Linked DNA regions of Homo sapiens. The protein of the gene in region 2 purifies or fractionates together with the protein of the main gene of each other region. This does not show direct contact. Each region holds a gene or a part of one and is shown on either strand. Other genes may lie near its edges.

Region 1 (7,402 bases), on a different chromosome or scaffold from region 2:
GTAACCACCGATTAATGGCTGGAGATGCTCTCTAGAGACGCTACATCTGGCCCTTCAAATTAATAACCCTCTGCCAGGAAATCTCTTGGTTAAGAGCAAATAGTAATTCATATCTTTAGATCAAACACTCATCTGGGAAAAGGCAATAAACAGGAAAGTTAGAGGTTTTCTTGAACTTTTATGAGAAAGTCATATGACTACCACTGCTCCCACTGGACTAAAAGGGGGAAGTGAGCCTAAACATATTAATATTTATATAGTTCAGCCTCTAACGCTTAAATATATAATGGAGGAAAATAAAGGAATGTTTATAATTGACTTCCTACCAATGAGACCAAGAGGAACTCAACAGCAGCTGTTGAGAACTAAAGGTGCCAGGACCATCAATGAGATTAGCAACAATGTGTCATGCATCAGATGTCGCTGGGGGGAAATAACTTTAACAGAAACCCCCGAGAGTCATGAAAAGTTCCTTAAAGTCCTGGAAAAATGCAACTGGCTCCTCTTTACCACCAGAACCAGAAAAATGTAATACAATAAAATGTAATAGCTTTCAGAAACTTTCCAATTTTAACATATGTGAAAGCTAAAAATAAGTTTTGAACAAATGTTCACAAAATGAAATTCATTAAATCGTGGTTAGGATCTTGAAATAATTTTAGTACGATATTTTGCCATAAACATAACAGTTATGCCATAAACATAACTTCACATTAGGAGTTCTGATTGTTGGGTGCCTGTAATGCCAGCTACTGGGGAGGCTGAGGCACGAGAATCACTTGAACCCGGAAGGTGGAGGTTGCAGTGAGCCGAGATCGCACCACTGCGCTCCAGCCTGGGCGACAGAGCAAGACTCCGTCTCAAAAAAAAAAAACCTATTTTTCAAAGTAACTGATGAAATCTAAGACAATGAACTATTATTTTCTTCAATTCAACTACAAGCCTTTTGTGAAAACTGTTGAACTAAGTCTTTCAATTACAGACAGAAGAATTGTGAAATAAAAAAAATTAAAGCCATATTTATAGGATGTTTTTCTCATCTGACTACGATTAATTTCCCAGTTACCAAAAGAAAGCCACATGGTGCAACCTGAGACTTTATTTATATTTAGACAACACTATTTTTCCAAAGAACCTAAAGTACTGTGCAAACAGTAAATAACCATTTTTAAAACAGCATTTTGGAAGCTTTTGATATGGCGGGGAGAAAACTCATTACAAATTAAAGGGGGAAAACTCTGTTTTCAAAGACACAATCACTGCATAGTCAAGTTCTCCTCTCCCTGTTCCATAAGGACCATATCTGTTTTTAAGGAAGTAAAGTTTACTGTTTGGTAATTAGATTTAGAAGACTCTGGAAAAAAAATATTAAAAACAAAAGTGAAAAAAACATTTAAAAAATGATATTAGAAACCTGTTCTACTACACTGCCTCCAATAAGTGTGTTTAAAAACCGCAAAAAAAGGGCTTCTTTCCATTCAATATCCAAATGTAGAATCCTTCTTTGCAGACAATCTGACGATGTCTAGTAACTTTTCCCTAAGCCCCGCTCGGAAATTGCCTCCCAGACCGGAGACCTGCAGGTGCTGCTGCGAAGATGACGCGACCAGCCAAACCGGTTAAGGATTTGACTGCGATTGAGAACTAGTGAGGACCTCTAGGAACCCAACCTTCTGCGTTCATACACGCGCTCGCGCGCACACGCACGCACACACACACACACACACACACACACACGGCAAGCAAGCCATCTCCGGTCACACCCCAGACACCGCCGTCCTCCCGGGACGGGCGCTCCTCCACGCGTGCTCCTTGGACGCGCCAGCTCCCCCTCCATCCCGGGACCGTTGTCCTTTTCCCTCCGGGTCCCTGCTGTAGCCGGCCGGCCGCTCCCGCCGCTCGCCCAGCCCCCGAACGCCTTCTCTCCCACTCCCAAGGTCCAGGGAAGGGGCCAGCCGGCGCTTGAGCGCGCCACGTGGAGCGCGCGCGCCTGCAGCCAAACCTCAGTCGGTCCTTAAAGTGGGGTCCCCGCCCCTCCCGCCCTGCTCCCCGATCCCCCAAGGCCGAGCCCGCCCCCGCGCCTCCGAGCCCCTGTCTTGCCTGGCTGGGGTCTGTGGCGCGGAAAACGTGGCAGGCCATCTGCGACTCGGGGTCGTCGGGCTGCGCCTTGATCAGGTAGGCAAAGTAGGTGAGGTCGTGGCTGTTGTGGATGAAGCGCGAGATATGCTGCGCCTTGTGCTCGAAGATGAATACCGCCGGGTTGGGCTGCGTGGCCGACGGACTAGTGCCCCCCGAGGCCCCAGCGCCCGGCGCGGGGACGCAACGCAGGAAGGGCGCGCTGAGCACCAGGATCACCTCTCGGGCCGCCGGCGCCCCGCAGCCGCCCGCCTCGGGCTTCTGGCTGCGCCTGCGGATCTCGGCCATGAGCCAGGGCAGCATAGGCAGCGTGGTCCTGTGGTCCAGGCACGACCCCCCAACGTACCACAGCCGGAACCGCTTATCGCTTGGCTTCCCGGGGCCGGGCTGAGCTGAGACGCCCGGCTCGGGCTCCAGGGGGTGCGGGAACGGCTCATCCTGAATGCAGCTGGGCGGCTCCATAACTCTCGCCTCACCAGGGCACCGCGGAGGCCGGCCGGGCGCACCGCGCCCCCCACTCCCGCGCAGAAGGCGCCGCCGAAACTGTGCCAACTGCCGCACCGGGCTCCCGCGCCTGCCTGGGAGCGGCGCGACCCCGAACTCCGCGCTTCAGCAGCCCTGCCCCATGCAGCACTTCCACGGGCGCGGCTCGGAGGCTCCGGCGGCGGGCACCGAGGCAAGCGCCCGGCAGGCGAGGGCGGGTTAAATGGGCATCCTCCTCCTTGGGCTGGCGCCTCGGGCAGGACCTCCCCTTCCTCCGTCGCGGGTTTGCAGGGTCAGAGGACCACGCCGAGGGTCCCCGCGGCCGCCGGCTCCAGCGCTGCAGCCCCGCTGCGGCCGCCGCGCTCGCCTGGGGCAGACACTGGGTGGCTGGGCGGGGAATGGGGCTGTGGGCGGGAGGGGGTGACTTGGGGCGGAGCTGACTCCTACCAGGGTGACCGGCTGTCACCTGGAAGGTCGGGGCTGCAGGGCTGCGGCGCGGTCAGTCCTCAGGAAAGGCTCCGGCAACTACTCCAGTGGAAAATAACAAAAACAAAACGTGGCCTCGCGGGGGCCGCTCCTCCTCCCGCCGCAGCTGCAGCCCAGCTCGCTGCTCCTCCTCCTGCCGTTCCCGTCCCTCCCTCGCTCCTTCCTTCCTTCCTTCCAGGCTGCTTCTTTAATCGGGCTGCTACTCCGCCTCCCGTCCGGCGGGCGGAGAGCGTCGCCTGCAAAAGCTTATCCGTGAAGCCGCCTCTCCGCCTCTTCGCCTCTTCCTTCGACCCCCGCCCTTGGGGCTGCAGCTCAGAGCCTGGCGCGGGCACTGCCCGGACCCACTTGGCCTCTCTTGAGTCGCCGCGATCTCCGTCTCCTCCCGGGCGTCTCTGCTGCCCCCTAGAGAGGGGGCCACTCGCAGTGGAGAACTGGGATTTTTTTTTAACAGTATTTGCTTGGTTTCAGTTCCTTCTAAAGCCTACACATTAATTTCTGAATTATCTTTCCTAATAATCTCAAAAAACGCTCGTGTTTTCAATCACAATATTATAAATTCCAGTTCCAAATTTCACTTTAAAACATAATATCGACAGCTTGAATCTTCCTAGTTATTAAAGCAGCCAACTTCTTAAAATATGGAAAAGTTATGTTTTATTTATGTTATATCCCCAGTTGAGAGCTAATGTAGAGATTTCTTGTTCTTTTATATATATGTGGTAATACATATTTCCAAAGAACTAAAAAAAAGTTTGGAATAATTTGATCATTGTAATTTTAAGACAGGTAGACAAGTATTCTCCCTTTTTACTCATACCGAATGATAATTAAGAATTGGGTAAGAAGTAAAGACAAAATAAATAAGAAAGACACAGAAGTTCCTGACTTTCTCCTAAGTGCTTACAAGAAGAATGAAAACTCGGGTTTCTTGGTTTTTAGTTTAATGAGTTCTCACTTTTTATAAAGCCCTGGGACCACTTTTTCCCTTCTATTTATTTAAGATCAATATAACCAACTGCCATTGTTCTTATGCTGAATTTCTGGTTGCACTCTGATGGCTCTCTTATTAATAGGTATCTAAGTTCCAAGATGGAGACATTACTAATTGATTAGGTTAAGTCATTTGGTTGAACCACTTAAAAAACCTTTGTTCAAAAAGACCCATGTCTTCAAAGAAGCAATGAAAAGTTCTTGGAAGGTAGACTGAGACCTTCTAGAACCTTCCCAGAAACTCTGTTACACAGATCCCATTTCCTTAGGCTACATATCTGAGACATAAAAGAAAGGAACAAAGATATGGAGAAAGCATGGAAGTCTTGTAGACTCTACGAAATCAACCAGCTTGGGAGCTAGGATTGAATTAATAGCTCCAGCAGGCCAGTTACTACTGGCATAATAAAGTGAAGTAACAAAGAACACCCTTTCACTGATTGACAGAAAAACAGAATTGTCTTTTATTACATGACATGCTAAGTATGATTGCTTTCTGCTTGAGAATGCCCCTCATTCTTTCTATTGTTATTTTTTTTGTTTTTGTTTTTGTTTTTGTTTTTGTTTTCTGAGACGGAGTCTCGTTCTGTCGCCCAGGCTGGAGTGCAGTGGTGCGATCTCGGTTCACTGAAACCTCCACCTCCGTGGTTCAAGCAATTCCCCTGCCTCAGCCTCCCAAGTAGCTGGGATTACAGGTGCACACCACCATGCTTGGCAAATTTTTTTGTATTTTTAGTAGAGACGGGGTGATCTCAGGCAGTCCGCCCAGCTCAGCCTCCCAAAATGCTGGGATTACAGGCATGAGCCACTGCACCCAGCCCTGTTAGGTTTATCTTACTGAATGCTACTGAGCATTTTTACTGTCTGATCCTCTCTGAATCCTCACACATGGGCAGATAGTCCTTTCCTGCCCTCCTTGAAGTTAGCCACAATCATATGACTTGTTTTGACAGTGAAATGTGAACAGAAGTGACTTGGGTAGAAGCATTTAATTGCCAGTAGTCGAGGCTCCTGCCCACTCTTCTCTCCAGTGGCCATCATGGAGACATGTCCAGGTAGAGGCGCCTTGTAACCAAAGCAGCCCCTTGTAACCAAAGCAGCCCCAAAGGCTGAGCCAACACACATCAGACATCTGTCCTGGAGAATCTCCCAGGCCTACAGCAGACTCCTCAGGAGTAAGAAATAAACTTTTGTTCCACTAAGCCACTGAGATTGTAGATTGTTTTCTACTGTGTTATTAATCTCTCTTATCCTGCAAATAAAATTGTTATACTCTAGCATTAATATGTTTTATACAAATTGTTTTATAATCATTCATACATCTATTTTACTTAGTACACACATGAACTAGATGGTAAGCTATTAGTTTCTTACCACCATTGTATCACTTGCAGAGCTTTACAAAATTACATGCGCATGAAAAGTTCCCAGTTATATATTTGATCACTTAAATTTAGAAAACAGTAAGAGGGCCAGGGTTGGTGGCTCCACATCTGTAATTACAGCACTTTGGGAGGCCTAGGCAGGCAGATCACTTGAAGTCAGTAGTTAGAGACCAGCCTGGCCAACATGGTGAAATCCCATCTCTACTAAAAATACAAAAAAGTAGCCAGGCGTGGTGGCGGGTGCCTGTAGTTCCAGCTACTCAGGAGGTCCAGGCAGGAGAATCACTTAAACCCAGGAGGCGGAGGTTGCAGTGAGCCAAGATAGCGTCACTGTACTCCAGCCTGGGAAACAGAGCCAGATTCCATCGAGAGGGGGAGAGAGAGAGAGAGATAGACTTCCTAAAGCGCAACGCTCTACTCTTTCTGCCTATTTTATTTTTGCTCCTCATTCCCCTACTCTCACTTCCACACAGTCTCCCTGTTCCCTTAGTACATGTTCATGTTTTTATGGGGCTTCACCAGCTCCTTCCTCTCCCCAACTGCCTTTTCTTCCCACTGCCCCACAACTTGCATTTCCTCATCCTTCACTATTTCAAGACCCATTCTTCAAGACCCAACTCAAGAGTCATCTCTTCTGTGAAGATCTTTCTTTCTTTGCCAGCCAGAGCTAATGGCCTTCTCTCCTTTGCCCCCTTTTCTATGCATTTCACTATTATAACTCTTATCATTCTTTAGAATTTTGGGGTGATTTGTCTGCATTCCCACCACAACAAAAGCATCTTGAGAGAAGGGATTATTTTTCCCCCACATGTGAGTCAGTAGTTCCTCTGAAGGGATTATTTGTTTGTCTCATACTTTCCTCCAGTAAAAACCACAGTAGCTGACACTAGGTAGGTGATAAATACTGAATGAATGAGTGGAGTTGAATAAATAGCAGATTAGAATTTAAGAAGCTAAAGAGGGATGTTTTGATATCATAGAGGAGATATGCCAAATGATTTAATTAGCTAATTTCAGGTTAACCTACTAAATATATCCATCAACTAATTATAAAGTACTAAAAAATAATAGAACGCCTCCCAAAAATTGTAGTGGAGTTCTAGCTGGGGATGACACACAGAACCCAAGCATTTGTGATTAACAGAATGTCAAGATATTCACAGGGTTTTTCCTCATTGTTCCCTGTGACCTTCCTTCAGCCCAGGCAGCCAGGGCATTCCATCTTCCCACTTCAGGGAAAGGATGACACAGCATAACACAGAGAACAAAAGAGTTCATTCTTAGCTTTCAGGTGAAAAAAACCCAAGGACCTGGCAAGGCAGGCAAAAGATTTAAAATATATTATATGCTCCAAGAGTCAGTTTCTCTTGCTCTAGACACTAAAGAAAATTTCCCCAAACTTGGGAGATAGAGGAGAAGAATGGGAATAAGAGGGTTTAGGTCTTGTGGATCTCCAGGGAGGGGACCTAGGCTCTGTCTCTTCTGGTTAAGTCAGTGGAGGGGGGCATAGTTCTCCAGAGCAGAAGCTGTGCTGCTCTTTCCCAAGGGTAGCCCAGGAAACCTGCAAGACCTCGGTGTTTCTCCCATGCCCATCATAGAGAGGAAGCAGAAGAAGGGGAGAGGGCATCTAGGCAGCAGACCTTAAACAGCCTCTGGAAATGCCCTGCATGCAAAGGGAGCACTGGATATATCCTCATGTAGCCAAGGAAAAGCACAGAGACAAACCAGAGTCAGTGAACTGAAAAGCCCTTGTGGTCAGGACAAGGAGGACAAGGCAGTGACCATGTTCGCTGATGCACTGGCTACACCTACCAGGACATACAGCAAAGGCTCAGACTGACAGCCCTACAGGAGGTCTGGAAATCATCTCATCCAGCCTACTAGCCTAAAGCTAGAAGACAGAAACCTCCAAAAGGAAATTC
Region 2 (6,843 bases):
ATGCCGGATGCAGCCCCGGGAACTCCAGATCCACACTTCAGGACAAGAGCGGCCTGGGAAGGCTAAGAGGGAAGGCCGTTTGTGGGTAAATCCGCTGAAGATCTTTTTGGGAAATGAGCACAGTTTTGGTGTGGTAATTTCTTGCAACCATATTTTCCTAGATTGAAAATTCCATTGTTAACTTTGGGTAAGTAAATCTCACCCAGATCTCCAGGTATAGGAGTGTAAAACCAGACGGAAAAAGATGCTGATAAAAGGAAAAATGACATTTTTCTTCTGGGCACTATTCACTTCCAATGACAAGTGTGAGGTCTACGAGAGAGAGAACAGTATCCAGTTTAATTCAGACTAAGGAAAGCCAAATTTCCTTTCAATTGGCATGTAAGGAAACACCCAAATAAATGGGCTTGTGTGGTGTCTAAATTAAAATATGGCTCCTCTTTATTTTTGTACACATGCCTCCAAACATATTTTTCCAGTTCCATCAAATTAGGACCAACTTTGTTCATATAGAAACTTCTTTTTAATATTACAATACCAGGATCCTCGCACATTTTATATACATCATTCCACATTTAAAATATATTTCAGGTTTACGTAAAAAAAGAAAGTGTTAAACTATTTACAAAAATACATTAAATACCCCTAACATTAAATGCAACTTTCCCACTTTAGACAGGAATGAACTTCTTTTGAACATGGCACAAAAGGATCACCGTAATAAAAGTTAATATAGTATAAAACCAACCAAACAAAAACAAAATGAGGCTAGACCTAAGCCACTCGCAGTTCCAAAAAAATAAAAGCCCAAAGCCGAAAGGCGTTTTCATTTGAGCATGCACAACAGATTTCGCAATTTTCGCAACGTTTCTTTGTGAATGTGTCTCCTTCCCTTTCAGCAACTTTTCGGTCTGGGTTCCTAAATGTTAATGTAATGTGACCTAATCTAAAGGATTAGGCCAGGAAGGGTCGGTGGGATCTTCCTGCTGCGTGGAGAAGGTCTCAAGCGCAGGCTCAGTTACTTCTCCACCACTTCCTCCACGCAGGGGAGTTTGCGTTCCTCCGAGGAAATACTGTCCACGATGGAAGAAAGGCATCGAAGGCTACTCGAGGCTGACGAATCAATACTTGCTCCTCCTGAGCGAAAAAACAACACACAAACATAGCACCCAAAGAAGGAACACGAAGCAGCTCCGCGCCCCGCGCGAGGCCGCTTTGGCAGCGAGGAAAGGCCTGGTCCCGGCGCGCAAAGAGCGCCCTTTTCGCAGGGCGCGTCCCTGCTCTCGCTTCGAGCCCTCTCGGCCCAAGCATCCTATCCACCTCCCGGATTTTCTCTGGTGCGGCCCAGAGCCCTTTTACTTTACCTTCCTTAGCCGTTATCACGAGCCCCCTGGAATGATCGGAAACACTTGGCCACTGGGAGCTGCAGGTGCGCAGGAAATCCGCACCCTCAAGCTGGAGGGAAAACCAAGGCAGCGGCAGATTAGGAAAGAAACATCGGTTCCGGGGTTGGGGTGGGGTGGGGGGCGGCTTTCCTGCTTCCTCGGGCCGGGTACGCATTTCCTGCCTATTGCAAGCACCCGGTCTTCTTGGGTCACTGGGGGTTCATTAGAGACGGAGCGGGAGGGGCGGGCGAGAAAGGGGGAAGGGAAAAAAGACCAAGCAGCTGGAGGTTAAGGCCCCGCGGAAGGCGTTTAATCAGCCTTCGCATTTCCCTGCCCCGGCAGCATCTAGGCTTACATTTTCTTGTTTGGGTCTGTAGCTGAAGGGGTCCACCCCCAGCTCCTGCATCTTCTCCTGCTGATCCAGCCGGTGCAGCAGGTCCTGCAGCCGCTCAATATAGCTGATGGCGCTCCGCAGAATCTCCACCTTGGGCAGCCTCTGGTTGGGGTTGGCCACAGTTCGCCGCTTCAGTGCCTCGAAGGCCTCGTTGATTTTCTTTAGCCTCCTCCTTTCGCGCAGGGTGGCGGCTTTTCGCCGGTCAGTGGGGGCAGATTTTCTCTTGCAGGTCTTGCAAGCCCAGATCAGACACTGGCCGGGGCAGTGTGGAGGCTGCAGGCCCGGGGGCGCCAGGACATGTTCCTCTCCGCTGCTGTCGCTCCCCGCTTCCGGGGGCATTTGGTCCTGGCAGGGGGACAAGGTACCATCACTCCCTGGATACAAAGGAGAGCCTTCTGCCACTTCTAATGGCTGCAGAGTAACATTTTCCCCATCCAAGTAGAAGAAATAGGAGCCAGTTTCAAAAAGGTCCATCATCATGTTCTCCTCCTTGGCCTCTGACTCGATCTGAACTGGGTGATGGACTCAAAAACCCAGAGGAACCACCCAGATGGCATTTAATTAGTGCAGTGACATAAGTCGACCCAGCTTTATATATAGTAGCTCCTGAAACTCAATCCAACTTTTAGCTGTCATGGAGCATCAGTCTCCCAATGTGATTGCAGCTAGTGCTCTCTAGAACATCTAGTTTGAAAGAAAACTGAGAAGTGTCACCTCCCAGAGTGTTGTGACAATCTATGTGCAGACCAGGTTACACAGAGAGAATCACATAACTTAAACAAAGCATTGAACCCTTCCATTTTGGGCAGTTTAGATACTAACCTGCTTACAGGACAACTTCAAAACAACTGGGGATTAACATTGCCCTATTCCCCTCCCCCTGCGCTCATCTGAATTCTAAGTATAGACCCATGATGAAAGATTTCAAAGGCAATAGCCATTGCTCCAAAATAGCCGGGTTAATATTTGCAGAGTGGTTCAGCTCCTTTCTCTCTCCTGCCTCTCAAAAAGATGCTATTCCTGTGATTAAAACCATTACAGTGCTTCAAAGGTTATACATGACTTTCAGGCTTCAACCTCAATAGAAGCAGGTAAATCTCTTTCCTCTCTTTTACTAAGGCTGCAAGATGATTTGGGAAATGGAGGGGGTTGCTGAAGGGTGCTCACATCCCATGATACTGGATGAAATGATTCTCTGGGTCCTTCCATAGAGACCGTCCTTGACTATCTTTTTTTTTTTTTTTTCCTTTGGGGAGAGGGGCAACCAGGATCTGAATTCTGTACCCTTCCATTTGTGGAGCAGTATTACATATGAGGTAGGGAGTGGGATAGAGGATGGGGTTACAATACATGTAGTAACTCCTCCTTAAAAATAGTTTTAGTGAAAACAAGACTCACACCACAGCTACTTGATATTTCAGCATTTACTTGTGGCCCCCTCCAAGGTGCCTCTCTTATGATTCCAGTTCTGCACACTGTGTGCTCACCACTTTTTCTTTTGCATTCTCACTATCCATTGACTCCAAATAAGTTGTTTGATAGGATTTAAGTGAGAAAGGTTAGCAACCAAGGCACGAGCAAGGAAACAGCATTTTTTAAATTGCAGCTTGCCCATGGTCCACAAGATACATGTATTGTTCTTCGGGAGACAGTACAATATGAAGGTCAAGTGCGGGGGCCCTAGATTCCAAAGAACTATCAAGTCCTAGCAAGGTTAATTTCTATGTATATATCCATGGGTAAGTACTAGATCTTGATGTCTTCAAGATGATAGTGGTTTCCTTACAGTTTTAGTGAGGATTCAATCAAATGATACCATGCATGTGAAACACATAGCACATAGCTGCTTGATGAACAGTAGTTATCATTTGTAGTATAAAGCCATGTTAGGGCAAAGACTCATTCCTATGAATGAAATAAAGCATAGCTGTTGGAGAGGTTTTTCTTTTTCTTCCCTCTCTCTGTTTTGTTGTTCTTTCCCTTCCTTTCACCTTTCCTCCTAGAGCTCTAGAAAGACTTCCTAGCTGTAACTGGCCTTTGGGATGTCAGTTGACCTTGGTTTTGGTCTTTATAGTCAGTGCCTCAAAAACTATGTGGGAACATAAAATCTTATTGCTCTACCCCAAGCAGTAATGATTATAAGCTGTGTTCTTTATGACTTTATTTTAAAAAATGAATAGAGTGAAGATAATGCAGGAAATCAACTGTCAGATAATTTAGAAATTAGCTAATCAAGTCGCCTATTCTAGAAGATGATTCTTCACAGTTTCTATTGAGCCACAGACTGGATGTTAAGCTTTGATATTTTTGGCTGTTTTTATTCCTTATCAAGTTTAATACTATTCTTAGATTTTTGGAATGGTAAGAAGGAGAGAGAAGAGTTGCAAGAGGCCAATACTTCTTCTGTGACTTTTTTTTTTCTATTTTCGCCAGTTTCTTGGTTGCTCAAGTCAGCAATTAAAACTGCAGATTGAAAGTTTCAGCAACTCAGGGTATAATCTAACATCTATTATAGAAAATTAGCTTGTGCTCTTAACCACACTTTATGTTGTCTCTTGTAAATGTGAAGACAATTTGAAAAGTTAACTAAGATTATTGTGATAAAAATCATTAAGAACATTAAGATAAAAATGACTAATTTTTTTTATTCAGCATTTATTGGGTACCTACTAAGTGCCAGATAGTGTCCTAGGTGCTAAGGATAAAGCATTAAAAAAAATCTCTCTTCTCATGGAGTCTGAATCTAAAGAGGTGAGTTAAATTAACAGACCAAATGGGAGAAATAGCCTTGGAATTGGGATGGGGAAGGCCTAGATTATAGTCTTTTGGGGCCTGTGAGGATTTAATGAACTCTACTATCTCAAATTCTCAGATGTTTAATCCGTAACATTGGCATAATGACAAAAGATGTCCATATTTACAGGATGTTATAAAAATTAAACTTTTAAAAACATGAAACCCACCTCAAAAATGTAGCATCCTCTCTAAAAGTACTTTTATTATTGGAATTAGTATGTTCAGAGAAAAATAAGGGAGAAAAATATCACTACTAAGCAATTTTGAAGCCTGGGTGAAGAAATACATTTAAGGTGTTACCATTCTTAGACTTGCCACTGATTTTAAGAGGTATCAGATAGATGTTAGAGAGCCTTCATATCATGAACCCGCTAAAAAATATGGAAGTTCGCCTTTTCCTTTTTCTGTTTCTTTCATTCAAGTGTCACCACTGGAGAAAGAGCCAGTTTAGAAATGTAGAAAGAGAATTATTTTTTTAAAAAAGTATATAAAGCTTTGGGGTGCAGATCAGGAGCAACTTCTTAGGCAAGGGTGGCTTTTACTGGTATAAAGTCAACTTTCACCTATTGAATTCTTCCTTATTAAATTATGAATCCCCTTTTCCAACACGCTCTAGACCTCAGACCAGTAAAATTAGTGGGAGTGTTTACCCTGGTTTAAACAGATTTTTCCCCTTTTTTGTGGTTGTTTTGGGAGTTGAGGGCAGGAGGTGGGAGGAGAAAACAAGGAAATGCCAGCTTGGGAAATAATCACCCTTTATTAGATTAGGTCAATGGGAAAATACGCACTGATGCCAAACTTCTAACTAGTGAACTCTTGGAACTCAAACTGTTTACAAAATATGAGATGCCTGTAATTGCAATTATATCACTTCTCAGTAGAACTTGGAGACACAGACCTTGACAAGTGGTCAAATCAGTTTTACATAAACTGCAATCCTCCAAGCTTTAAATAGTCCAAATATTTTTTTAATTATGGAAAAAGTAAATGATAATAGGGGAATAATAATATTATCATTAATAAAATCACTCCAAGGGGACTAGACTTCATTCATCATAAAATCTGAAACTAGATTAGTGACAGGATGGGAAGTTTTCATGTGGTTTACCACCCTGTTGTTCTTACTTCATGCTTATTCATTTGCAAATGATTTTTTCCCCCCAAAAAAGCCTGAGTGCCTCCCAATTCTTTTCTGTGGGAAGAAGTGGGAAGGAAAGTATTATGGCTAGCTCACATCAGTGGATTTTAGCTATGAGCCTTTGGAAATGTTGCATATATGGTAGAAAGAGAAGAGACCTTTGGGGAAAGACAGAATCTGTGTTCTAGCCATTCTTAAGTATGTGTTTCTAGCCACAGTTTTATTAGAGATCAAAAAGCATATACATTACACATATCATAGGCTTTCTTTTCACACTAAATTAAATAATATATTTTGAGCCCATGGTATGAAATATGCACTCAGCAAATATTAATTCTCCTACTCAATTTGTAAGGCCTCTGATGGAAAGAATCATAGTGAATTCACTGAAAAACCTAGATTTGGTGAGAAAGATGTTTCTGAAAAATTTGGGGATTTGTGTTAATCAAGGTGAAAATATTGAAACTAGTCGCTCTAGTAGCAGAGCTTAATGTATTTATACCCTCATTAAATTTCCAGTTTACTGGGGAACAAGATACTAATTAAAAGTCACACAAATGAATAACCGAATTAGGAACTTTGAAAGAAAGGAATGTAGTTCTCTAAGAGTGTGTAACAGTAAAGTCACTCCTGAACAGGAAGCTTGAGAAAAGGATGGTTTGGGAACAGAAGTTCCTGAGGTATTGTGGTGGCATTTCTAGGGAACAAAGTTCAAGCTTTTTGAAAAGCCTTTGGAAAGTAACAGGATGATGGTGACAGTCAGAAAAAGCTCAAGGAAGAAACAGACATAGATGACTGTCAGAGACTAGGGAAGAGATTTGTGTGGGTGATAGCTGGGGAATTTGGTTACATAGTCAGATTCAAAGAAAGCAGTTTCAGCCACAGCTGATAAAGCAGAACTGAGGGCCGGATAGACGATGATTATACTCTTTCAACTATGAAAAATAGAAGAAAGAAAAGGGTATAGAAGAACGGAGAGAAGAGAGAGAGGAGAGAAACAGAGTGAACAGAACGCAGGCTAGCCCTCAGGACGAAGGGTCACCCAGCAAGGGCGGAGAGTAGCCATAAAGAATAGAAGGTAAAGGAGGAGCCCGCTGACTGAAAGGCAAAACTCAGAAGAGGCAGATTAG
Region 3 (6,821 bases), on a different chromosome or scaffold from region 2:
GAGCCCCTCTCCTCCACGTCCTCCCCAGAGCCTCACTGACCTTCCATCTCTGGGCCTTGCCTCTCCTCCTTTCCTGGATCTCATGTGGCCCCTCACCAGCCACAGAGCCCCTTCCTCAGGCCCCATCAATGGCCCCTCAGCCAACAGGACCAGTTTCCCAGAAGAGACTGCGGGCTTTGCCCAAGGCCACATAGCAAGTGAGAAGCCACCCCTCCTTGGTCTCAGCCATTTCTAGGATAACAGAAAATGTGGACAATGAAAGGCTGGGCAGGACCAAGGGCACTAGGGGCATCAGAGGAGTCTCGCCCCATGACATCCAGGCTAGAAGAGGCCTTGGAAGTCCCCCAGCCCAGCCCTCAGCCCCTAGACGAGGCTGAGGCCCAGGTCAGGTGGCAAGTCAGTGCAGCCACCCCATGCCTGCAATGCCTCCTTTCCGTGGCTGCCAAAGGACATGACCCCCTGGGTGCGGGCACACATAGAGTTGGAGCTTTGCCCCTTGGGGGAAGGGTCTGGATGCAGTTGCCCCACACGGGCCCAGCCCCTCTCCAGAGGCTGTCCCGCTCGGCAATATCATCTCTCCTGGGGGGATTTCCTGGGCACAGGACATTGCTCAGGTCTCCAGCCTATGGGGGAGCAGACGGTTTCAGGCAGGACATGTTCCGGTGTGGAAGTGACCAGCCTAGAGTCACAGAACCCAGTGGCAGCAGAGTTGCCATCACCTACACCTCTGGTCCCCTTCAGCCACGTAGTCTGCCCCAGCATGTGTGTGTGCCTCTGTGTGCCTGGGTGGACAGGGCTCGTCTCGTACCTGTACGTGGCCACCTCCAGGCTGAGGGACATCTTGAGGTGCGCCAGCTGCTGCCGACCTTCCAGGACCTGAGCGATCTGGCTCTGTAGGCCCTGTTTCTCCTGCTCCAGGGCCTCCACAGCCAGCTGCAGGGCAGGCGAGAGGCAGTCAGTGGAGGGGCTGGGGTCCCTTCTGTGAACCAACCTGCCTCCTGCCCGCTGCCGCTGCCCGGGAAGCACCTCCTGCTCCCTGGCTGACTTATCTGTGTAGCAGACCCCCGCCTCCCCTACCCTATTCCCTGCCCAGAGAGCCCCCTCTGGATCAGCCAAGATGAGCCCAGGGCCCCTGTCAGCACTCTCAGCTCTCTCCCATGGCCTGCTCCTCCTCTGAGGATGCTGATTAAATGGTAGCACATGTTGCTCAGAACACAGCTCCCACAGGAAGGGGAGGTGAGGGAGGAGACGAGATGGGTTATGGAGAGAGAAGAGGGGGAAAAAAAAGCGAAAGCAGAAGGAAAAACGATTAATCAAGATGCCTGGAGCCTGCAGGACTGGAAGGCAAACAGCCCCCGTCCCCCGTTGGTCCCATCTCCCACAACTGTCTCCTGCTCCTCACAGCAGGCTCTCACCCCCGCCCCACCCCCATTTCCCACATGTTCTGGATTCTGTCTCCTCTGAGAGGAGGGATGGGGAGGTGGCCATGGCACCTCTGTGTGGCCCAGGCAAGAAGCTGTTTTCTCAGCTGCTGGTCACATCTGTGCCCTGTGAGAAGGAGCAGCTGTTATGGGCCTCTGGAATGTGCTCCAGGGAGCCGAGAAGCCATGACATGGGAGGGGGCTGGTAGCCATTCATTCACGGCCCCTCACTCCTCCCCTCAGGAGAAGGAGGGCTGTGAGGAACTTGGTGATTCTGAGTGGCCAGGCCACCAGATTCAGCGCAGAGGCGACAGTGCTGGGTGTCCTCCTAGTAATACCAGAGCCTGGGAAGGGACCCGGAGCCCCGGTCATCATCAGAGCCAGAAGGTGCCATCCAGAGAGTGGCGGGGCTGCTGCAACGGGTCTTGGGCCTGACTGCCCACCCGGGATGTGCTTCGAGAAGCCCCACCATTCGCATCCTACACTAGACGGGCTGTAAAAGTCTAGGACTTGTGGCACCAGGTTTCTGAGAACTGGCTCCTGATTCAGCAGCCAGCTAGCCCCACTCCCTTCCCAGAAGGTCTCTGAGCTTCATAAGGGACTTTCTGGAGCTTTCTGGGACTTTCTCTCACCCAGGCCCTCAACCTCCTCACCTGGAACTTTTCAGTAGCCCGCAGCCGCTCCTGCCAGCGGCCCTCCAACCTCTGTTCCAACGCTGCCCTGCGCTCCAGGAGGCCTCCGCGCTCAGCCTGGAGCTGCTGCAGCTCCAGGCGGCCCTCGCGGGCACCCTGCACCGCCCGGCCCAGCCGCTCGCGGGCCTGGCCCAGCGACGTCTCCATGTGTGCCACGCGCTCCTGGTAGCCGCGCACTGCCCCGCGCCACGCCTCGCCCAGTCGCCTTGCCAGCTCCTCTACCTCCGGGGCCGGCGCGGGAGGCCCGCGGGGCGGCGCGGGGCAGCGGGGGGCACAGGCAGCCTGCGCGTTCAGGCCGACGCGCTCCTCCTCGTGCGCCACGCGTAGAGCCTCTAGCTCGCGCTCCAGCTCTGCCACCTGGCTACTCAGCCAGGCCCGGGCGCATTTCTCTGCCTCGACGGCGCGCCGGTTGCGGGCTACCTCCTCCGTCGTCCGCTCCCGGGCCAGCCGCAGCTGCTGGCATCGGCCTGCCACGCCCTCCAGCTCTTCAGCCAGGTTGTCGCGCGCCACCTCGGCCGCGTGCTTCTCCCGCCAGCGTTGGTCAACGAGGGCCCGCAGGGCCGCCAGCTCGTCGTCGGCATGCGCCCGCCAGGAGGTGTCCGCGGATTGTGCCCGGAGCCCCCCGAGCTCCGCGCTGAGCAGCTCATTCTGCTCCTCCAGCGCCTTGACCCGGGCCAGGTAGGCCTCCAGGCGCCGATTGAGCTCCCACATCTGAAACGACTCCTCCCCCATGCAGCCCTCCATCCTGCTCGTCTGACCCACTGAGGATGGACAGACGCGGGGCACCGGGAGAAGGGAGCGGCTCGCAGAGCTTTTAGGACGGAAGAGAAAAGAGACCGACGGGGACAATGACGGGGCGGGGCGGGGTGGGAGTAGCCTGAGCGACTGAGAGTCGGGAGTGGGAGCGAGGCTATTCATACTCCCGCCAGGCGGGCGGGAAGAGGGGCGGGACCCAGGCCTTAACCCCTTAGAGGTCAGAGAGTGGCAGCAGCCTCTGTTCCTGCTTCCCCAGGGTGCTGGAGAGTGGAACCAAAGAAGAAGCTGTACCATGGAGAATCGGATCTGATGGTGGTGGCTTTCTGAGGGAGGAGGCTGTGAAGAAGGGTCACAATCCCCGAAAAAGGCAGATAATGCACAGAACTGAGCCTGTGGGGGTGGGAGTACCAGGACGTTCCAGCCTGGGAGGGAGTGCAGTCTCAGTTACTCAACACATCCGAGAGAGGTATCACTTACTGAATTCCTCTAAGACTCAGTTTCCTCATCCATAAAATGTGAGCAATGATGGAAATCGCATGGCTGCTGAAAAAAATGGATGTGGCCAGGTTTTTGTTTTTCGTTTTTGAAATAGCAAATGCTCCTCCTCCTGAAATACTGGAGAGAGTACTACAGCATTGCAGAAAGAAGCTAGAGAGACGCTGCCTGGAAAACAAGAACAAATGTCTGATATTAGGACACACGGATACACACACACACACACACACACACACACACGCACACACGCTATTGCCTGAGTCTCCATCAGAAAAGGGAGCGACCAGGTTAAGGGCCGTCATGGGCTTAAGAACGTTTGTCCATCCTTCCTACAAGTCTTCTGTATAACTGCGAGGTTCAAACATCCGCTTTAGGAAGTTCTGTTCTTGGGGAAGGGCCCCTTCTCCCGCACCCCCTGCCAGGGAATGTTGGGTAGTGGACGCCCTCTGGCGGCTTTCAGAAGTGGAAGCAGCAGGAAGAGGCCATTCTTTTCCTTCCTAACGACTAGCCCAAGTTTATCCAGCCTTTATGATGTGCCCAGTCGTGTTCCAATATTTTACTTCCATGATCTGACTTAATCTTCAAAACAACCTTTTAAAGATTCTACAGTTTATGAAGTAGAGAGCTCACCAAGGGTGAGAGTAGTAGGGAAGGCTTTCTGGACGGAGTGCATCCTTGAGCTGGGAGGTAAAGGACAGGTGGGATTTGGGGGATTTACAGTGAAGGAGAAGTAGGGCTGGGGAGGAGATGCAGGGATAATGAGACGGAGGGGATCTTTGGGGAAGGCGTTTCTGATCAAGCTGCTAAATCCAATTTAGCTCAAGTGTTAATTGAGTACCTACTATGTGTCAGCACCAAAGAGATTGCAGGAACTCTGTCCCAGCCCTGGAAATGCTTATAGTTTGGTGATGTGAGGTCAACAGTGATGGGCACTCATAGTCTGTTGGTGGAGGTAAACATAAAAAGATGACTACAATACTTAATCAGCCTCCAAGGTGCTGGGGACAGAGCCAGGCAGCACAGAGGATGGAGAGGGTTTTCTGAGTAGAGGGTACAGCCGGGTCAATAACCAGGAAGTCATCCCTCCAATATCCCCTCCCCTTGAGGAGTCTCTCAAGGACCCCATCCCTGTCCCCAGGCCAATGGGGCTTTGGAATTCACCACCAATATGTAGAATAGAGGCCAGGGAGGGGTTAGTGACAGGACATTGACTGAGAGTCAGTGCAGGCCGGGAGGCTGAGGATCTGGGATGCCCAGGCTCCTTCAACCTTGCATTACCTCATAAATCCTGCTGTTTGGTTTGGGCTGAGGGCTCCCCAGAGTTGTGGCCAGCAGAGCTTGCTTGGAATCTCCTCCTCTCTTTCTTTTATTTTTATTTTTATCTTTGAGAGGGAGTCTTGCTCTGTTGCCCAGGCTGGAGTGCAGTGATGTGATCTCGGCTCACTGCAACCTTCGCCTCCCCGGTTCAAGTGATTCTCCTGCCTCAGCCTCCCAAGTAGCTGGGATTTCAGATGCCTGCCACCATGCCAGGCTAATTTTTGTATTTTTAGTAGAGATGGGGTTTCACCATGTTGGCCAGGCTGGTTTGAACTCCTGACTTCAGGTGATCCACCCGCCTTGGCCTCCTAAAGTGCTGGGATTACAGGCATGAGCCACTGCACCCGACCTCCTTCTTTCTTTCACTTTCTGTCTGGGAGGAGAGGGATGCTAAATGTTTGAGATCCCCTGGGATTCTTGGGGGCGGTCCCCTAAAGAGGTAGGGTGGCATTGGGCTGGGGGTTCCTCTCTGAACCCCTCACCCTCACCCAAAGGGGAGACATTTGGAACTGTGTCTCATGCAAAGATTAGCTGACTTTTGCACTTTCTAACTGAATGACATTGGACAAATCACATAACTTCTCTAAGTGAGCCTGAGTTTACCTATTTGGCAAAGCAGGTTAATACCCACCTATCCCTATAAGTTTGTTCTGATAATCAAATAAGACCAGGTATAGGGAAGTCTTTGTATAAAGCCTTTTTTGAGGACCGTCACAATGAAAGCCATTAAGCTAAAGAAAACCTCCTCTTGTGAATCACTCTTGTGAGTTTTAGGAATTATGGGGAATAGAGATTGTTAAGAATTCTGGGGAAGAGTGTGGTGTTGATTTTCCTAAAACAGGAGATGGTAGGTTCCAGCATTCACAACCTAGAGGATCTGACGTCAGTGCTTACCAGATTCTAAACAGATACCTGATATTTGAGGTACTTAGAGAAATAAGGCCCTCCCTAGAGAAACTTAGGCCCTCCCTTCATCTCCTTCCCTGGTGACTGCATTTAGTTACTGGGATGTTTGTGGGGCCATTGGCCGTACCTTTTATTGGGTCTCTGGACCCAGGACATATGAACTATGTGGTACTACAGCTGGTGGATACAAAGTCAGCCCAGCAGTCATCCCCAGAGATGGCCATGAGCAAGCTTAGTGGGTTCTGTGTGCTGCCCCGAGGGAACCTGTCCTTGGTCCTGACAATTAAAAGTTTTAATTAAAGACTTGAATGAAAACATGGAAGCCATGTTTATCAGATCTACAGACTATGCAAGAACTGAGAGTTATATTTTAGCAAAATAGAAAAAAAAAACAGATGACATTTAATAGGGATAAGTGTAAAATTCTGCTTTTGGTTTCAAAAAATCAACAGCATAAGAAGAGGAGAATAAAGACCGGCTGAAGAGTAGGGAGTGTCTAGCAAAGAAGAAAGAGCTGGGGGTTTTAGAAGACTACAAGCTTGTTAGGAAGAAACCAATACTGGGTGGCTGTCTAAAAAAGTGAAAAGGATAAAAGTGACTATAGATTCAAGGTGTCCAGATGAGCAATGGCAACACTCCCATTGCCCTCCACATCTGGAGTGTTGTACTGGACACTATATTTTAAAAGGGACCTTGATGGATTGGAGTTAATCCCAGAAGAAGATGACCAGATGGTAAGGGATCTTGGAATAATGTTTTTGTATTTTTAATTTTTAAATTTTTTAAAATTTTATTTATTTATTTTGGAGACAGTCTCGCTCCATCACCTGGGCTGGAGTGTAGTGGCGTGATCTCGGCTTACTGCAACCTCTGCCTCCCCGGTTCAAGTGATTCTCAGTCTCCCGAGTAGCTGGCACTACAGGCTTGTGCCACCATGCCCAGCTAATTTTTTGTGTTTTTTTTAGTAGAGACGGGGTTTTCACCATGTTCGCCAGGCTGATCTCGAACTCCTGGCCTCAAGTGATCTACCTGCCTCAGCCTCCCAAAGTGCTGGGATTACAGGCGTGAGCCACCACACCCGTCCCAGAGTGTTTGATAAAGACTTTCTGAATGAACTTGTGTCTAAGCTCTGAAACTAAAAATAATGGCCTCTGAGTAGCACACACACAGCCTAAAGGAAATTGCCAGCCCCCACCCTGAAGGCCTTCTCCCCACCGAAGTCTGCATTAGAGAA
Region 4 (7,692 bases), on a different chromosome or scaffold from region 2:
GAACATTTTTTTCATTTCCATGATTTAAATAATCTGTACAGACATGAAACTTAGTGACATTAAGCTTTAGTGTAAAATGAAGAGTAATAAGCAATTTTTTTTCACTTTGATAAAACAGCAGATTTCGTAAACTCCTTAAGGATCCAAGCATTTCCTCATCCCATATGCAAAATCATTCAGAATCCATTTTGACCTCAGTTGAAAAACAAAAACAAACACTTACTCTGTATATATTACACTATAAAACCCTGTACTTAAAAACTGATAAGGTGTATTTTCAACATGTATGCTTCAAATACAAAGATTTCAATCTACATTTAAAAAAACACATTTGAATGGACTCAGAACAAGTTTAATTTGTGATTAAACATCTCATGCAATCATGCAAGACCACTAGCTATAACTGTTACTTCCGAGTCTATACTGGGCAAAACAAAAGCAAATTAAGAGCCAGGCCAAACAGAAAAGACATTCAAGATATCAAGAGCTCTGTAATTGAGCTGAAAAATGATTTTCCAAAAGAAATATTCCCATAGATTAAAAAAAAACACACACATAATATTTACAAAAAAATATTTAATTAAAAATATCTTATAATTACAGTATCTATTAAAGCATATACTTTCTCACACTTATAGAACATCTCTATATATACATGGTATGAAATGTCACTCATTTATCTATACAATATGTAACATTCTTGCAGAGAAAAGAAAGTTCTCTGCCCCGTTATAATCATCTATTTTAAACAATAGATGTAAAAAAAAAATATCTACAATGCTCTGGTAGATTAGTAAAGCTTCAAAACAAAAATTGAGCTCCTTGGTCACAAAGTAGGCTTCTAAAGTCGGATCTACTCTTGATCTTCTATTTATCAGTCCTGTCACACTTAAGCTTAAAAGTTTAACTGCACCTCCAAAAAACACAGAAATGTACAATTCACAGCAGTTATAAATGAAGAGACAAAAGAGAATACGTATGTAGAATGTTTATGAACGTGCAAAGAAAGAATGAAAGTTGTATTTTTCTTTCCTCTCTCTCTCTTGGAATGACGAATGAAAACGTTTCTAGGTTGGCCGATGTTTTTTCCTTTCCTCCGGTGGCTTTTTTTCTCTAACTTCTGCTCTTCCCCCTCCCTCTCTAGTGCTCCTGGCTCGGGCTCAGGCGGCCGCACACCTGTGGAAGAGGAATGAATAGAGGGGGTGTGTGAACCTTCTCGCTGCAGACTAACTGGCGCCACCGACCAAACTCAAGACATGCTTGATCAACAACCCAAAACAAACCACCAGGTCAGACAACACCCGCCCGCGGCCGGGCCAGGCGCCGAGCAGGCAGCTGCGGCCCTCGGGAAGCCCGGAGAGGGGACCCACTCCGGCGCCCTGCCCGCGTCCCCCTTTGTGGGTGACAGACTGCACGGGAGGACACCGGGGCAGCTCCCATGCCCACGAGGGTGCCCTCCCTCGGGAACTAGGGAAGGCAGAAGAGCCCGCTGACCACCAGAAAAAACACGGGGACGGCGGGGACAAGGGCTGACCCGTCTCCACCGAGACTGAACCTCGAGTTCTAAGGCTAAGTACGGGTTTACTTGCTACTTAGGTGGCAGGGAGAGAGGGGATTTACTTCCTTGGGAGTTTGCTCTCAGAAACGCTGGGGGCAAAGAACACCGCGGTGCCTGGCCCCGGAAGCCCTCGGGGACGGGCGTCTCTGGTGACCGGCCACCCGAGACGGGAAATGCGCGCTCACCTGGACAGCGCGGCTCAGCGGCACAGAATGCTGTCGCCCTGCTTGTTCACCGCGCCGGCCTGGAACAGCAACCGAACACCAAGGGAAAGGTTAGCAGGCGCAAACAACGCGCTCGACACGGTCCTGGATTGTCCTCGGAAATCAGGCTGGCGCGCCGACGCCCCCACCCCAGCCTGTAGCCGGGGGGGCCCCTCCGGGCTCAGGCGGGACTTGACAGCCCAGGGCGCCCACAGCCCCGAGTCCCGCCCTGCGCGTTCTCCCGGACCCGCGCTCGCCGAGCCCGGCCGGCTGCTGGCGGCCCGGGGGAGCCCGGAGGAGCAGGGGGAGGGGGCTGTCATTCCTGGCCCGCCCCTGCCCGGAGGACGGTGAGCGCCCGCGTCCCGCCACCACGCCACCAACCTCCCATCCCCCGCGGCGTCCGCCCACGGCCGGCGCCCGGCCTCTCACCGGGTCGGTGTTGAGCGCAGTGAGCGGGGTCCGCGGCGGCGCGGCTGGACAGGTCCCGGCCGGGTGGTGTGGCGGCGCGGGCGGTGGTGGCTGCCTCAGCAGGGCCGGGTGCGTCTCCAGCGCCAGCTGCAGGTCCAGGATGTAGTCGATAACGTGCTGCAGGATCTCCACTTTGCTGACTTTCTTGTTGGGCGGGATGGTGGGCACCAGCCTCCGCAGGCGGCTATAGCAGTCGTTCATATCGCACTGCAGGCACAGCGCCGGCTCGTCGGCCGCCGCCTCGGCCGCCTTACAGCGCGCTGCCGCCGCCGCCGCCGCCGCGGCTGCGGAGCCACCCAGGCTGTGGCCGTGCTCGGCCAGGCAGCGCAGCGCCAGCTCCCCGCCGCCGCAGCCCGACGGCGCCTTGCGGCCCGAGGGGCGCACCGGGCTCACCGCCTTCATCGCGCGCGCCCTGCGCTCTACGCGAGCGAACCCGCTGGGGCGAGCGAGGGAGGCAGGCAAGCTCCGGGCCCCGTCCGCGGCCGGCTCCGCTCCCTTTGCCTCCGCGCCCGGCGCGCTCGGGGCACCGCGACACTCCCGAGCCCAACAATTGACGGGAGGGTCGCTCTGGGTTTTACGAGGGAATCTTTGCTCAGTGGGCGACACTCAGCCCGAGCCCAAAGGAAAAAAAAAGCAAAAGCACCGGAAGAAAAGTAGCCCACCCGGGTGTCCTAGTCACTCCCTTCGGAGCTCCGACTAAGCCCGATCGCGGCCGCCGCGCTCCCCTAGCCCGGGATCACCCCACTCCCGGTACTACTCACAACCGCGCCTCCTCCACTACGCTCTCGCCCGGCCCGCCGCGCAGCTGTATTTATAGAGCCGTGCGCCCCGGGGGCGGGACCAGCGCGCGGGCCGGGTCGCAGCGCGAGCCGAGCGGAGCCCGCTGGGCGCGCGGGCGGGGGCGCGGAGGGAGAGGCGAGGGCGGGGGCTCCGGGCGGTGCTGGGGGGCGGGGAGTCCGGCTACCCGAGTGGAGGAGTGGGCGGGGGGTCTGGAGTGGCCAGCCAATCAGGCGGGCAGTGCCACCTCGGGGAATGACGCTCGGGCCAATGGGAAGGGCACTCCATTCCGTCAACGCTGTGGGTCGGGGTTCTGAGAAAAGAGAGCTGAGTGGGAGTCGGGCCAGGCTGATGTGTGCCCAAGGGAGGGGAAAAGAGAGAGCGAAGTTCCTGCGAAGAACTGCGGGAATGTGCGGCCGGAATTCACTCTCCACCGCCCCCCTTATCCCGACTAGGCTGCTGAGGGAGCGCCTGGGCCCTGCTCGCGGATACCCTGCCACTCCTAATAGCACGGCGCCCAGGGACCCTCCGCCACCCATCACTCCATCCGTGGGATTCCAGTGCCTTAAGAAAGACGCGCTGTTCAAGAAGGCACGTTCATTCTGTTCTATATTTCCCTCCTCCGTTTCATTATTCGCCTTTTCACATTTGCCGAAACCATAATGATGGAATGGAATGTGTAGCCTTTCCGTTTTCTTTTTAAAAAATGCTAAAGCTTAGCAAAAGTAGAAAAAAAAAGAAGGAAAAGAATGCCGAATCGAATGCAGGTTTTTGGTGAAGGGAATATAAATAAAACAAAAACGTGGGGGGGGTTCTTTTACCCCATCTAAATGCAAAAGTGGGCTCAAGAAATGCAGTTGCCTTGCGCATTCAATTAGAGCACGTAAAGATTAAAAATGCATGGACACGGAATATTTAAAATTCCATTATGACATATAATATTAATCTGTTTTATGTAAAATTCATACCTGTAACTTAATTTAGGCCATTAATGCACAGCTTCACGTATTAGTCAGCGTACCCCGCTTTAAATAAGGTGATGAGAATGTCCAGAGTCGCCTCCTTTGACAGCAAAGCATTAAAATTCACACTTCCAGTCTCTGGGATCCCGCTTGGGCCCCACCCTGCAAAAAAAAGCCTGTTAATTAAGGGCGTTTTTGTGTTAGATTTCTTAGAGAAAAGCTGTCCTTCAAGGGTTCAAAATAAAATTGCACAATGAGCTTTGGTGGAGCATTGTGTGTACCCTTCAAGAAAAAATTGAGCCCTTCAGATGAGAAAGGTGCATAAAAATTCTCAGACAATGGGGAAATGAATTTTGAGTGCCTTCACTCTACAAACCCTCCCACCTTTAGACACGCTTGGAGATGAATTAACCCAAGAATTTTCTTCATTCGTGTACATGACATGGATTGGTGTCTTCATTTTCATAGATAATTGAAAGAAAGAGACATGGACCTCATTTCTTCCTGTCTACCCCTATATGGACTTTTTCTACATCCATTCCCAGAACTGAAATACCTGCACCAGGCAGATATTTTGTTTAGCTATGTCAGTGCTTTATGACTATCGCACTATTCCCCAGAGCACATTCCTTTCTCCTGATGAAATGAGGAGCAACTATTTAATTCTGGTTTCACAGGTAGATGCAATAACCCTCCTCTCCCCTAATCCTTGTATGTTACTGCTTCTAATAATTGTTTGGAAACAAGTGCCATTCTCATTTATTTATGTGCATACGTAGATGGTCTACATACACATTAATCGAGAAAATCAGAATTATGAAACTCAGAAGGGCTTTCTTCTAAAGACAGGCATAGTCATATACATCATTAAATTAATGCAAATACAGAGAAAATGTTGTAATTTTAAATGGGAAGTCGGTGAAGCCAGCACTACTGGTTGTAAGCTATTATCTTGGAGCCAGTCATATGAGCACAGACGATAATAATAAATGGATATATGTACAGATGTTTTGTTCCATTGATCTTTCTCTTTCCTAGAGTTTAAAATTTGCTTCCAAATTCAAAACCCAAGACTTTCCTCTGTTTGGCAAAATAAAACTATGCTAATATGCCCAGGACACACTTACATTTAAACATTTTACATATCCTAACGATTAAAATTAAAATTTAAGTTTTGAATACGTAACACAAAGGAAGAATCATATCGACCTTTTTGGAATTTGCTAAATCTCAGAAAGCCATGCCTTGGGTGTGACAAGCGCCAAATGCCTAAGTTTCAGGTTTTGTTGGAGATGCTCTGTGTGACTGGCTTAAAGTTAGAAAGACTGAGTTACTCTGTGTGGGGTGGGGTGGAAGAGGTGGTTTCAAAGGAATGTACCTCAGCCACAAGATCAAGAATACCCAGGAAAGATGTGATCCGTAAATCCTGCTAGCAGAGTAGGCAGAGGCAGTTACTGTGCTCCTTGTTTTGAAGGTTGGAAGGCATGAAGACATTAAAAAATTAAAGTGCTACCATATACTATGGGAATAAGGAATACAATCCTGCACGTTTTGGTCCATGAAACCAGAGAGTACTAGGGGCTATGCAATGTATGTTTTTGTATTCTTAGACATAGACACTTACATGACATCAAAGCTGCAATCATGGAAGATTCCTGGCACTGATAATTCAAAACAGTTTACCCAATTATCACTCAGATTTTGGATAAACCTTACAAGCTATGTTATTTCTACTGTGCAGAGAAGGTAACTTAGTCTGTTGGTGACTCTTTTACATCAAAGTGTTTCACTTGCACTTGTAAAAGTAAAATGGGCTAACCCAAATCCTTTTGTCATGGAAATGCTCGAGACTCCCAAAATATACCTCAGTAGGAACCTAGAATGAAACATTCATAGGAGAATTGCTAGAAAGCCGTGATGACCAGAGTCATGGATACACCCTTCCTCCAGACAAAGAGGTCTGCTGTCCTCCCTGAGATGTATTCTAGCTACTAAATCAGGCCCTCACTGAACTGCAACACCCAGGCCTTTAGAAGTCATAGTCACCCTGTGTTTACATGAAGCAAGGGTATGGAAGCATATTGTGCTCTTCATTCCCAGTGCCTTTTTAGGACTTGATACTTGTTTCTCCATAGCCTCCAGGGAAACAGTGAGTGTACTCATACACAGATAAACGTGAATGTTCCAATGCCTTGGTCACTCTGTAGATTTGTCGTCACAGAAAGAGGCACATGCATTCTTTGAGGGCATAAGAAACCACTATGTACTCTGCAGCAGGACTGTCCCTTGCTCCCAAAGAGTAAGTTGGGCAATGTGGCAATTCAAGCTCAAGGCTGCTTTATCAGGCACTAAGTGTTACAAAATTACTTGTGCTACCCTTGGATTGCTGATACTAGTCCCGGAAATGCTGATAACCCCTTAGTTTGCTAGGTCCTGGAAAAGGCTTGTAGGAAGAGGACGTTGTACGTTGAACATGGCTGGGCAGATGTGGCTGTCAAAAATGCCTTGTTTGGGGAGTTTTAAAGGTAGTTGGTTTAAATAAGAAGTGACTTTTTGAAAGCCCCCCTTAGATTAAAAGACAGAAAAATGGGGAGAAATAAGTGGAATTTGTTTTTACCTTAGGAGATATAAACAGCATGGACTCTGAAGTGAGACAGCCTAAGCCCCAATTTTGGCCTCTTTGCTTATTAGTTTTATATCATTCAGCTGGGTTCTTAAATTCCTATACCTTTCATATTTGGAATGATTAAAATTGCATTTACTTCATAAGGTGTTTATGAGATACACATATTATATATATGGTCTCTGTAAAAGAAATTCAGTAAAGTTCTTAGAACAGTGGTTGGCACATAAGTGGGCAAACCATGTTACAATGTATTACCATTTTTGGCAAATATCTCTCAGTCTGTGGACTGACTTTTCATTTACTTCACAATCTTCTTTTAGAGCAGAAGTTTTGATTTTTTTTTTTTTTGAGACAGAATTTCACTCTTGTTGCCCAGGCTGGAGTGCAATAGCATGATCTTGTCTCACTGCAACCTCCGCCTTCCAGGTTCAAGCAATTCTCCTGCCTCAGCCTCCCAAGTAGCTGGGATTACAGGCGCCCACCACCACACCTGGCTAGTTATGTATTTTTAGTAGATATGGTGTTTCACCATGTTGTTCAGTCTGGTCTTGAACTCCTGACCTCAGGTGATCTGCCCACCTTGGCCTCCCAAAGTGCTGGGATTACAGGTGTGAGCCACCATGCCCACCCTAAATTTTGTTGGTGTCTAGTTTATCAGTTTGTTCCTTTATGGCTCATATTTTTGATATTGGATCTATCTAAGAAATCTTTCATAGCTCAGGTAACAAAGGTTTTCTCATAGGTTTTCTTCTAGAATTTTTATATTTCTTAGGTAGGGTTGCTTGCATGGTGTGTAGCTTATGCAGTCACACAGGGTCCTGCACTCAGAAGAGCTGTATGCTTGGGTTAGTGCTCTTGCCTTCTTGAAATTCTTAGTAATTTTTGAACAAGGGAACCTGCATTTTCATTTTGCATTAGGACCCACAAATTATGTCTCCAGTCTTTGTTTTCTGTTTTATGTGTAGGTCTATGATCCATTTTGAGGTTATTTTTGTATGTGGTGCAAGATATGGGTTGAAATTAATATTTTGCATTTGTAGATCCAATTGTTTCAGCACTCTGTCGAAAAGTCTACCTGTTTTCCAAAGAATTGCCTTT

The links.
Region 1: the proteins of MYF6 (region 2) and TBC1D4 purify together in Homo sapiens (affinity purification with mass spectrometry; 2 studies listed by BioGRID and IntAct, with this or other methods). This does not show direct contact.
Region 3: the proteins of MYF6 (region 2) and NES purify together in Homo sapiens (affinity purification with mass spectrometry; 2 studies listed by BioGRID and IntAct, with this or other methods). This does not show direct contact.
Region 4: the proteins of MYF6 (region 2) and ID4 purify together in Homo sapiens (affinity purification with mass spectrometry; 2 studies listed by BioGRID and IntAct, with this or other methods). This does not show direct contact.

What each region holds. Positions count from the first base shown.
Region 1 is NC_000013.11:75,479,170-75,486,571, forward strand, and holds the start of TBC1D4 (TBC1 domain family member 4), read right to left. Parts: upstream 3,001-7,402; 5' UTR 2,599-3,000; coding exon 2,101-2,598; intron 1-2,100.
Region 2 is NC_000012.12:80,703,136-80,709,978, reverse strand, and holds MYF6 (myogenic factor 6), read right to left. Parts: upstream 2,346-6,843; 5' UTR 2,260-2,345; coding exon 1,741-2,259; intron 1,456-1,740; coding exon 1,365-1,455; intron 1,138-1,364; coding exon 1,019-1,137; 3' UTR 505-1,018; downstream 1-504. UniProt on the Homo sapiens protein: Involved in muscle differentiation (myogenic factor). Induces fibroblasts to differentiate into myoblasts. Probable sequence specific DNA-binding protein.
Region 3 is NC_000001.11:156,674,408-156,681,228, forward strand, and holds the start of NES (nestin), read right to left. Parts: upstream 3,001-6,821; 5' UTR 2,858-3,000; coding exon 2,075-2,857; intron 934-2,074; coding exon 809-933; intron 1-808. UniProt on the Homo sapiens protein: Required for brain and eye development.
Region 4 is NC_000006.12:19,832,694-19,840,385, reverse strand, and holds the start of ID4 (DNA-binding protein inhibitor ID-4), read right to left. Parts: upstream 3,017-7,692; 5' UTR 2,632-3,016; coding exon 2,191-2,631; intron 1,803-2,190; coding exon 1,758-1,802; 3' UTR 1,744-1,757; intron 1,177-1,743; 3' UTR 1-1,176. UniProt on the Homo sapiens protein: Transcriptional regulator (lacking a basic DNA binding domain) which negatively regulates the basic helix-loop-helix (bHLH) transcription factors by forming heterodimers and inhibiting their DNA binding and transcriptional activity.